3 linked regions of the Homo sapiens genome follow. The protein of the gene in region 1 purifies or fractionates together with the protein of each later gene. This does not show direct contact. Each region holds a gene or a part of one and is shown in the gene's direction. Other genes may lie near its edges.

Evidence for each region.
Region 2: the proteins of DEFB110 (region 1) and LRP11 purify together in Homo sapiens (affinity purification with mass spectrometry; one large-scale study listed by BioGRID and IntAct). This does not show direct contact.
Region 3: the proteins of DEFB110 (region 1) and CACNA2D2 purify together in Homo sapiens (affinity purification with mass spectrometry; one large-scale study listed by BioGRID and IntAct). This does not show direct contact.

The regions. Positions count from the first base shown.
Region 1 is NC_000006.12:50,019,780-50,023,532, reverse strand, and holds the start of DEFB110 (beta-defensin 110 isoform a precursor), read left to right. Parts: upstream 1-1,538; 5' UTR 1,539-1,597; coding exon 1,598-1,652; intron 1,653-3,753.
Region 2 is NC_000006.12:149,836,847-149,840,499, reverse strand, and holds part of LRP11 (low-density lipoprotein receptor-related protein 11 isoform 1 precursor), read left to right. Parts: exon of another isoform or gene 1-62; intron 63-3,036; coding exon 3,037-3,162; intron 3,163-3,653.
Region 3 is NC_000003.12:50,493,544-50,497,196, reverse strand, and holds part of CACNA2D2 (voltage-dependent calcium channel subunit alpha-2/delta-2 isoform b precursor), read left to right. Parts: intron 1-3,653. UniProt on the Homo sapiens protein: The alpha-2/delta subunit of voltage-dependent calcium channels regulates calcium current density and activation/inactivation kinetics of the calcium channel.

The DNA.
Region 1 (3,753 bases):
AGCAGCATTAGCATTCAATGATCTTGTTAGAAAAGCAAATTTTAGTCCCTATTCCAGATCTACTAAATCAGAAATGCCGGGGGTGGGACACTGCAATCTGATTTTAGCAAGCTTTCTAAGGGATTCTGATGCAGCTAAAGTTTAGGAACCACTGTCTTAAAAATTAACTATGTGGTAGGAAATAATTGATTAATTGATTTCTTTTTCTTTCTTTTTTTTTTTTTTTTTTTTTTTTGAGAGGAAGTCTCACTCTTTTACCCCAGGCTGGAGTGCAATGGTACAATCTTGGCTCATTGCAACCTCTGCCTCCCAGGTTCAAGTGATTCTCCTGCCTTGGACCCCTGAGTAGCTGGGATTACAGGTGCCTGCCACCATGGCCGGCTAATTTTTGTATTTTTAGTAGAGACGGGGTTGTTTCACCATGTTGGCCAGTCTGATCTAGAACTCCTGACCTCAGGTGATCCACCCGCCTCAGCCTCCCAAAGTGCTGGAATTACAGGTGTGAGCCACCACACCTGGCCAATTGTTTTTCTTTATAGCATCAGCTTCTGAGTACTGGGCAAAACTTCCAGCTCTTTCTCACATATCCAAAATAATAGTTTTTGCAAGCATGCAATTTAGATCAGATATGAAATTTTCAGTTCCATAAACAGAATTAAAACATTGAACCTGAAATTTTGAAATCAGATGACTATAGAAAATTTATGAATCATACAAAGACTTGGCCGGGCATGGTGGCTCATGACTGTAATCCCAGCACTTTGGGAAGCCGAGGCGGGTGGATCATGAGGTCAGGAGTTTGAGACCAGCCTGACCAACATGGTGAAACTCTATCTCTTTTAAAAATACAAAAATTAGTCAGGCGTGGTGGCAGGCACCGGTAATCCCAGCTACTCAGGAGACTGAGGCAGGAGAATCACCTGAACCTGGAAGGCAGAGGTTGCAGTGAGCTGAGATGGTGCTACTGCACTCCAGCCTGGGTGACAGAGCCAGACTCCATCTCAAAAAAAAAAAAAAAAAAAAAAGACATATAGAATATTTCTCACATTTTTAGTGAATCCAGAATTTACTGATTATTTAAATAATTGCATATTATATTAATTGAAATAAAGTTATTTAATCTCCCTGGTTCTCATTGTTTTATCAGCAAAACAAAACTGATCTCAATGGAAACTTTTTCTCTAAAATCTTATGATTCAGGCATTCAACAATTTTATACTAAGGCATTAGAATACTTAATATTACATATAACATAGAATAGAGGAGATGATTACTATAACATTTAGCAATCCAAACACATATCCCCTATAAATAAAATATCTTAAAAACTGTGTTGTTTTCATGAAAGTCTAGTTAAGGTTACACAGCAGGTTTTACTTTTATGAGAAAAATTTAATAATACTTTTTGAGTTCATGTTCTTTGAGGGTGGCACTATTCAACCAAGCATACAAATGTTCTTGCTCTTGATAAGCCTCAGTGGTTAAAAGTACTTCCCAGGAGAATCCACAAATAAAAGGGATCTCTGTTTCCTTATTTCAAAACAACTGACTTGAAAAAGGAGGTCTGTTGCCCCCTTTTTTTAAGAAACTCTCTACCATGAAGATTCAACTTTTTTTCTTTATTCTGCACTTTTGGGTCACAATTTTACCAGGTAATATGCAAATATTTGTGGGGATTTATACTAACAAATTTGAGAAGACATAAGTTGTTTCTTGATAAAAAATATGATAATAACATAGGGATTAAAACATCATTTCACAAAAATGTAATGTGGTATTTTAGATTGGACTCCAGAACAGATAATAAAGACAATAGTGAAAAACAGACAAAAATAACAAGTATGAAAACTGGCAAAATCTGAATAGCTTAGTAAATACTATTACATCAACATTAATTCGTTAATCTTAATTAACATTACCAAGTTTATGCAATATATAACATAAGTGGAAGCTGGCTTCCACCAACTTTGCAACTCTTCTGTGAATCTAAAATAATATCATAACAAAAAGTGATGTGAGACAGAAATGGAGAGAGATTTTACTTTGTTGAAAGTAATGATCAGAGACTTCAGACAGATTGGACTTGAACAATGTATTTGAAGGCAGAAATAATAATTATTGAAATATCGAAGTATCACTAGACCAGTGGTTCTCAGAGAGGAGTGAATTTGTGCTCAAGGGAACATCAGGCAACGTCTAGAGACCTTTTAGCTCATCACAACTTGTACTACTGGCACAGTACCAGTTGTAGATAGAACCCAGGATGCTGCTAAATAACCTACAATGCATGGAACAGCCCCTTAGAGCAAAGAATTGTCCTATTCAAAAGATCAATATTGCTTAGAGTGAGACACCATGCCCTTGAGCTTGGCATCCAATTGACAGGGAGTATATTTAATTGATACTATTTGAATGAGGAGATGAATGCTTGCAAAGGAGATTAGCAATCCAAGGACACAAACTGGAGAACACATGTAGAGGTCAGAATGAGGAGAAAGAAGACAATAATGTTTTAGAAAGGTGAAATAAGACAAAGAATGAATAAGAGAAGGGGTGGGGTCAGTCCAAGGTGCATTCATGGACAACAGTGCCAAACATGACAGAACTTTTGCCAAAAGTGAGTATAATTCAGGTGTCTGTCACGGGTAATCACATATGGGTTTGATAATAATAACTCCTCAGAAAATGTAGAATAAGTAATGATCTTTAGAAGTGAATATTTAAATTGTGCAGATTAACTAGATGCTCTTCTATGCTTTTGTTTCTTTAAGTTGCTTCATACTCTGAATTGCTTTGGTTACATTGAGAAGAAAGCCAATATTAATAGTAGGACTTGGTTTTATAGCCATTATACCAATGACATAGATAATGTAGCTCTGAGTCTATGTATTAGCTAACAGGTATTACTACTCACCATCAGGTGTCAGCTGTTGGAACTGCAGACAGACTGCCTAGGCCAAAAGGCCTGGCCTTTGAGAAGACCAAGCAATAATTAATAGCAGGAAACAGTGGCATAATTTATTTGTTTTCATATGTGAAAATATTAAATCTGTCCTTTGGTCAAGAATTTGATGTGTATACAAAAAAAAAAGGCTACAAAACAAATGACTTCTGAAAACGAATCGGCCAGGGTACAATTTAAAATATAAAATAAAAAAATTTTGACTTGGTACAATTTAAAATATAAACTTAAAAAAATTGACTTGGAATAGATCACATAACCAATCAAACCAATGTCCTCAAACCCCCTAAATATATTCAATTCTAAATAAGAAACTTCTAGTGAGAGTCCATCTTTAAGCTAAAAAAAAAACATATCTTTTCTTACAGCTTTGACTATTACAAAGTTATTTTTGTATTGTGTCAAATTTTGTGTTTCTTATAATGTGCAAATTTTAGTTGCAGTTTTGCTCTCCTGGACATGTCTTCTTGTGACCCCAGCTACAAATCCCTCACCCATTCTTTCATGATTGATAAGAAAATATAAAGCCAGAGTAGGAGTTAACACACTTTTTCTAGAAATAAGTGAGACAACCAATATTGTAGGTTTTATGAACCCTATGATCTCAACTGCATTATTTTAATGCAAAAGCAGTTATAGACAATGTGTTAGCAAATGGGTGTGTCTGCGTGCCACTAAAATTACTTCCAAAAATAGGTGGCAGGGTGGATTTGGCTCCCTGACAATAGTTTATTGATTCCTAGTCAAAAGGTTTAATAGTACACACAGTAATTGACAGAAATTGTTTGTAA
Region 2 (3,653 bases), about 100 Mb from region 1:
TAAATTGCCAGCTGTAAATTTCTGGCCCTTCTCCAAGATGATAATAAACTGTATTTGAAGTAGCAGAGAGTGGTGTGTGAATCATTTTTGATTACTCAGTGGCCGCTTGAGTATAGGTCTTGTGTGGGTAACTTTATATGGAAAATAAAAAGGAATTGGTGAAGTACTAACTGCTGTCTAGAATCACTTAGTGGTTATATTGGAATAACATGCTATGAATTAAAGTTAATAAAACACCACAGAGAGACATTGGAAAATAGAGGTAGAAGAGACAAGTGTTTCCCTCCCCTGCATTGTATGTATTGGTCTTGCAATGAATGACCCAGATGTTATGGTAACCAAGGGTGACACTAGCTGAGGTAGACAGATGAGCAGGTACCCTGCTTATATGATCATAACTTGGTTCAATTTTTAATAAGTTGACATTTTGAACATTTTTCATGCTTAGAAAAATGATCAAACAGCAAGCCAGCAAGCTCTTCCAACATGATCTAACTCAGCAGTCTCCAAACAGGATGCCCCTGAGTTGTTCAAGACATTTTTAGGGTGAGAAAGAAGACAGCAGAGTTTATATTTTTGCTGATTTTTAATTTTTTTCCTTAAAATTTGAGTATATTTTATAAGATACACCCCATGTTAGTACAGTAGTATGCACGTATTATTTATAAATAAACCGGACTAGCCGGATGTGGTGGGACACGCCTGTAATCCCAGCTACTCAGGAGGCTGAGACATGAGAGTCAGTTGAGCCTGGGAGCTGGAGGCTGCAGTGAGCTGAGATTGTGCCACCGCACTCCAGCCTGGGCGACACAGCGAGACTCCGTCTCAAATAAATAGATAAATAAATAAACTGGAGATGCCTGTTCAACAATATATTATTGATCAGGATGCATGATCAAAAAAGTTTGGAGGCTGCTAATCCAAAAATAGATAGAAAATTTACAAATATGGATCCATCTCCAAAATCACCAAAGAATAAATAAAACCTTGAGATATCTGGGATTTTCATGCCATGAATTTAAGAAACCTGACGAGGAACTGTATCCTGCTTGATATCCAGCGTGTCCCCCACCTCCGCTCCCTGCTTCTTCCCAGTGGCCGGAGCTGACTCTCCTTCAGGCCCATGTTCTCAGTCATAACTGCAGGCTCTTTGCTTCCTCTTCTTCCGCAGGAGCTTCTATCACCATTTATTTTCTTTAACTTCTCTTCCTCCTGGATCAATATATCTTCAAATTGCCTCACACCAAGATAGACTCCTTTTCCAACCTCTTGATTTAACCACGTTTCAATAAAAGATGTGTCCAAGGCCGGGCGCAGTGGCTTACACCTGTAATCTCAGCACTTTGGGAGGCTGAGGCAGGAGGATTGCTTGAGTCCAGTAGTTCAAGACCAGCCTGGGCAACATAGTGACACCCTGTATCTACAAAAAAAAAAAAAACAAAAAAAAACCAAGTGTATGTCCAAGATTTCACTTGGGTTTGTGAACTGTGCTCAGCCATTTGGTTTTGAAGGAATATCATATAATCTGCCACTTCCCCATGTTCCTGAGAGAATTGTCTAGTCCACTCTGTCCCTGTAAAACCGTGGAGCTCCTGTGACCTGCTTCTAGCCTTGTGCCTTAGTCCATGTTGCCAGTACCAGATAGTCACCCGGTTCTCCTCTAGCTAAGTCTAATAAAGTTGGCTTAATCAAGGGAGAGGGAAAATGCATTTCAGGAAAATATTTGTAGCTCCTATGAATTGCACTGCAAATTAAAAGCTCCTAAGAACTCCAGAAGGGAGAAATGTCGTTATTTCTTTCTTTTTTTTTTTTTTTGAGACAGAGTCTCCCTCTGTCGCCCAGGCTGGAGTGCAGTGTCACAATCTTGGCTCACTGCAACCTCTGCCTCCCAGACTCAAGTGATTCTCCTGTCTCAGCCTCCCGAGTACCTGGGACTACAGGTGCATGCCACCAAGCCCGGCTAATTTTTTGTATTTTTAGTAGAGACGGGGTTTCACCGTGTTAGCCAGGATGGTCTCGATCTCCTGACCTTGTGATCCACCCGCCTTAGCTTCCCAAAGTGCTGGGATTACAGGTGTGAGCCACCACGCCTGGCCAATGTCATTATTTCATGAAACTAAATTCATGCCAGCCCATAACTAAATTTTGTTTATTCTCTACAGTACCAGGGACGTTATGATAATCAACAAATAGGATTCAATAGTAAAAACTTAATCTCAGTGAAAAGTATTACTTAGGAGACAAGAATGTAAGACATAGCATATGTAAAATAGTACCTCTGGGCCAGGCACGGTGGCTAACACCTGTAATCCCAGCACTTTGGGAGGCCGAGGCAGGTGGATCAGTTGAGGTCAGGAGTTCGAGACCAGCCTGGCCAACAAGGTGAAATCCCATCTCTACCAAAAAACACAAAAATTAACCGGGTGTGGTGGTGCATGTCTGTAGTCCCAGCTACTCCAGAGGCTGAGGCAAGAGAATCTCTTGAACCCGGGAGGCGGAGGTTGCAGTGAGCCAAGATTGTGCCACTGCACTTCAGCCTGGGCGACAGAGTGAGACCTTGTCTTAAGTAAGTAAATAAATAAATAAATGGTATCTCTGTTAAAACATAGCCAACTGCCATCCAGGGGATGGGATGGTATTAGGTGCCCTCCTGCAGAGCAATCGACAGCCAGAAGAAGAGGTTCCAACAATGGTTTCTATGAATGAATGAATGAAGAGGGAGACAGCTGAGGCGGGGAATCAAGGGTGGAGAGAGACCTGGGCTGTTGCTTCTGTGTGCCACCTCCTGGCAAGGCAAGCATGGAGAACAGCCCTCAGACCAAGAGCCCCTGAGGAGTCTGAAGAATTAAGTCGGGAGGCTCAAAAAGAGCCCTCCAACCTCTCCAGAACCTGTTGCTGGAATTGTTAGGTTTGCCTCATTATTTGCATCTCTTCCCCGAAGTGCATTTTATCATCCCCACGGACTCCCCTTTGTCATCCCCATCTTGAGAGTCTGAACTTCTGCACTCGTGTGACTTGAGATTTGTTTACAAATAGGATGTTTGCACACTTGCTCACGCTACCACTTCTTCTGTGACGATGGCTGCTGCATTGACATCACGCTCGCCTGCGATGGAGTGCAGCAGTGTCCTGATGGGTCTGATGAAGACTTCTGCCAGAATCGTGAGTTGGCTATGTCACATTGCTAGGCAGTGGCTGGAAGGGATGGAGTTGGGAGGTCTGTGTTCTGAGAATGAAATGCAAACACAGTGTCCTTCCCCTGCTTGATTTTAGTTATAACTTTACATGTAAAAGCTATGCCTTAAATGAGAATTCAATATGTCTCTAGTCTAAGTCTCAAATGTCAAATTTTTAGTATTGCTTATGTTTTTAATTTTTTTCAATTTTCCAGGTTCTTTCTATCCTAAAAATGCTGCATGTCATGTGCTTTCTTAAAAACTGCAGTGATTTGATGCTTTGTTTTGATAATTTTTTAAAGAAAATTTGCGATACACCAGGGTGTGGCTAAGTCAGAGCTGTAAATCAGTCTTATAATATCATACACATAGAAACACCCTGTAAGAAAGAAGAAAAACTGAAGAAAATGTAATGAAGTATGGATTTGAGGAAGGACGAAGAGTCTCAAAACCTTAAGTTTACGTTTAGTCTTTGTC
Region 3 (3,653 bases), on another chromosome or scaffold:
TCCTCTCCACGCCCTGCTTTAGCTGTGGCCGCTGGGCCTTGTCTCTTCCAGTGTGAGGGTGCCTGGACCTCCCGTCCTCCTTTGGCCATACCTTGGGTGTCTCATGGCTGCTTTTCAGATTGACCCCCTTTGAGTTCTGATCAGCCTAATTGTTTAGCAGAGGGGGAGGGGCATGGGAAGCCTTTCCTGCTGATCAGTATCCATCTTTCCCACCTTGGAAATGATCCTCATTCAACAAAGGGGAAGAGGTGGGTGAAAAGGCTGAGAAGTCACTCCTTCTGCCTGTCTTTTCCCTGCCCCTCTTAGACCCTGGGCCCCTTTCTTCCCCTTTGATGCCTGCCTTCCCTGATGGCTAGTTCTTTCTGAACAAGCCCCCTCTTCGTGTGCACTGAGACTCTGCCACACCTCTCAACAGCTGTGTGACCTTGGGAACTTCCACAGCCTCTCAGGGTCTTGGAGCCTCATCTGTAAAACAGGGCTTCCGTGGCTGTACTGCCACATAGGGTTGGGGTGTGATAGACTGTGAGGGATGGGCCTGGCCCCAGGGAGTCTGTGATAAGGGCATGTGGATCCCGACTGGATCTAGGGGGTATTTGCAGTCTAGCTGGGCCTGCACTCCAAGTGCCAGCCACTATCCCCTCATCCATAGCACCCAGCACCCATCCAGGCCCTACAGGCACTTGGGACCCACTTGTGGTTTGTGAGTCTTTCCTCTTGTGTTTGGCTCTTGCCTTTGCCTGTGTGCACATGTCAGCTTGTATGTGGGCGTGTCTACACCTGTGTGTTCATGTATGTGTGCATGTGTCAGACGTGTTCACATCTAAGCATGCTTGTGCGTATACCCACTTGTGTGCGTGTGTTTGTACTCACACATGGATGCATGTGTGTAGATGTGTGTGCATGGGCATTCTCGTGTGTAGGCAGCAGTAGGTGTGTGCGTGTATGTGCATATGAAGTCAAATGCGGGCATGTGCTTGGGAGCCTATGTAGTGCAAGCACACGTGTGGTTTATCTCTGCAGCCAGAATGGGCTCCTAGTGCCCACCTTCACCACCTGCCTTTGAGGTTAATGCCAGGGCTCGGCTGGGCAAACACTGGCAGTGGGAAATAAAGCATCCTGATTGTTAGGGCCAGTGTTTTGCAAACTTTTATGTTAGAAACAGCCTGAGTTAAAGCTGAGCTGGAAAGTTTGATCTTCTACCAACTGGCGTGATGACAGTCTGCAAAGGAAACAGAGGCTGCGTCCTTGTAATTCAAATTTTTGCAAATTGAATGGTATTTACATTCAGTGGAGGACTTGGGACTCAGAGGAGCTCCGTGAGTCCTTTGTGAAGTGAAGCATCTTTGCAAACAGCCCTTCCCCGCGTGGAAAATCTGGAGGGTGGGCGTGGAGCCTGGGCTCAGGCAGAGTGGGAAGCTCTTGCTGTGTGACCTTGGGCTGGCACTTTTCCCTTTCAGAGTGGGTGCTTCTCATTTGCACACTGAAGGGCAGGAGACTGGCAGCCCTTGAGTATCTGCTGTGGGTTTGGGTCCTCCCCGCAGCAAGACACTGTGGGCACGATTTGGGCTGTAAAAACTTTGGCTTGATGATCCCTTGATGATCTGGAGGGATGATTCCTCCACATGTTCTCCATCTGGAGCATCTCCAGCGAAGACACTTCCTTCAAGGATGGATTTTTGTCTACTGAGTCTTCATAAATAAGGCTGTCCAGTGATGCCCTGTGATGGGCCCTGGCCCCAGTAGCTGTGTGGACCCAGTTCTCGTGGGTTCTGTTGTCTGAGAGTTTTGCTTTCCTGGCATTTTCAGGACGCGCCTGTGTGTTGTCAGTGCTGCGATGGCCCAGGGCCCTTGGGATTTTGGGAAGTGGCTGTGAGGGGCTCAGGAGCCTACAGGCCAGGAGGGGTTCCTGTGGGGGCAGGGAGCCTGGGTGCAACCGTCTCCTTGGGCATTATGGGCTTTGCATGCGTCCCTGACTTGGAAAGGACATGCCACAGCCACAGAAATCCCTGAGGTCCTGATACCACCATCATATAGACACGGAAACTGAGGCCCAAGATGGGGGAAGGGAACCTTCAAGCCCCACATATCTGTGGCTGCACATACTCTGTGGGCAGGGCCCAGCCCTCATCCCTAATGCTCAGTACAGACTGCGGGGAGGGCGACTCCCTATGCAGCCTTCCTCGCACTGATGTACAGCTGTTTCTCTTAAATAAAAATATCCAGCCGGGTGCAGTGGCTGACGCCTGTACTCCCAGCACTTTAGGAGGCCGAGGTGGGAGGATCACTTGAGCCCAGGAGTTGAAGATCAGCCTGGGCAACATGGCAAAACCCCATCTCTACAAAAAAATACAAAAATTAGCCAGGTGTAGTAGTGTACACCTGTGGTCTCAGCTACTCAGGAGGTTGAGGTGGGAGGATGGCTTGAGCCCAGGAAGTTGAGGCTATAGGGAGCTGTGATGGTGCCATTGGACTCCAGCCTGGACACAGAGTGAGAGCCTGTCATTTATAAATAAATAAATAATAAATAAATAAAATCTATGGCATGGGTCGGGGGGCAAGTTGAGGTCTGCTTTGGCAAACTCGAAGGGCAAGATGTCTATGTGGTGTGAGGCCCCAACTCCTTGGGTTTCTGTGGGGCAAACTCTGATGTCCCTGTGCTGTTTCAGAGACATAAAAGCTTTCTGGGTCCCCTTGGGAAGGACAACTTTGTCACCAGGCAGTGTGGGCTTGGAGGGGCTGGCGTATTCCTGAGATGGTAGAGGCCCATGCTCTGCCTCGAGTTTCCAGCCTGACGTGGCATTTCAGTCTTGATCACTTCCTTCCACAGCCCGTGTTCTCCTCCTGCTGGCCCCGCCTAAAACGCTGCATTTGAAGCCTTAAAGGTCAGGTCTGGTGCTGCCACCAGTTCCAGCAAACAAACAACTAAACAACCCACCCCCGCCCTGCCCCCACTTCAGTTATGAGAAAAGAGAAGGAGCTGGCAGAGCAGGCCTCTGTGCTAAGGGCCCTTGCAAATGGGCATTTCTCCTTTCTCTCTGTGAGCTGAGTCCGTGGTGGGTGTGTTAGGGCCCTGGGAGTCTTTGTATCTCTCCTTGGACCCCCCGCCAGGCTTGCTGGAGTGTCTCCCTTTTGGGCTAGCTGGGACCTTGCACCCCAGAAACCTGCCATGGGCAGAGCCCCACTTCCCTGGCTAGCCCCTGAGGCCTTGCCTGGGCTGACTCCAGCCTCCGGCCCTGGGACTATCTGGGACACTTGAAGGTCCTGGGAAGAGCTCTGGCCTCCGCACCTCTGGCTTTCGCTCACTGCTCACCGTGTCCCTCTCCAGGCTGCTGGCTTCGCCCAGGGCCCTGGGGCAGGAGCCTTCCTGACCAACACCCTCCTCCGGCTCCCTGCCCTTTGTGAGTCCCTCCTCCAGACCCGTGCCCCGCCTCCAGCTCTGTGCCGGGTCATGGGGCCCTTGAGGAGTAGGCATTGAGCTGACTGCGACCCCCTCAAGATCTGAGTCTGAGGAGCGCATTTGGCTGCCAACAAGAGGCTGCTTCTGTGCTTATCATGTGTGGTGGGTTTTCCTCATGGTGGGCCCTTTATCCCCTGACAGGGAGCCAACAGGTGTGTGATGCGGCTGCTGGCAAAGACCAAGTGGTCACCTGTGC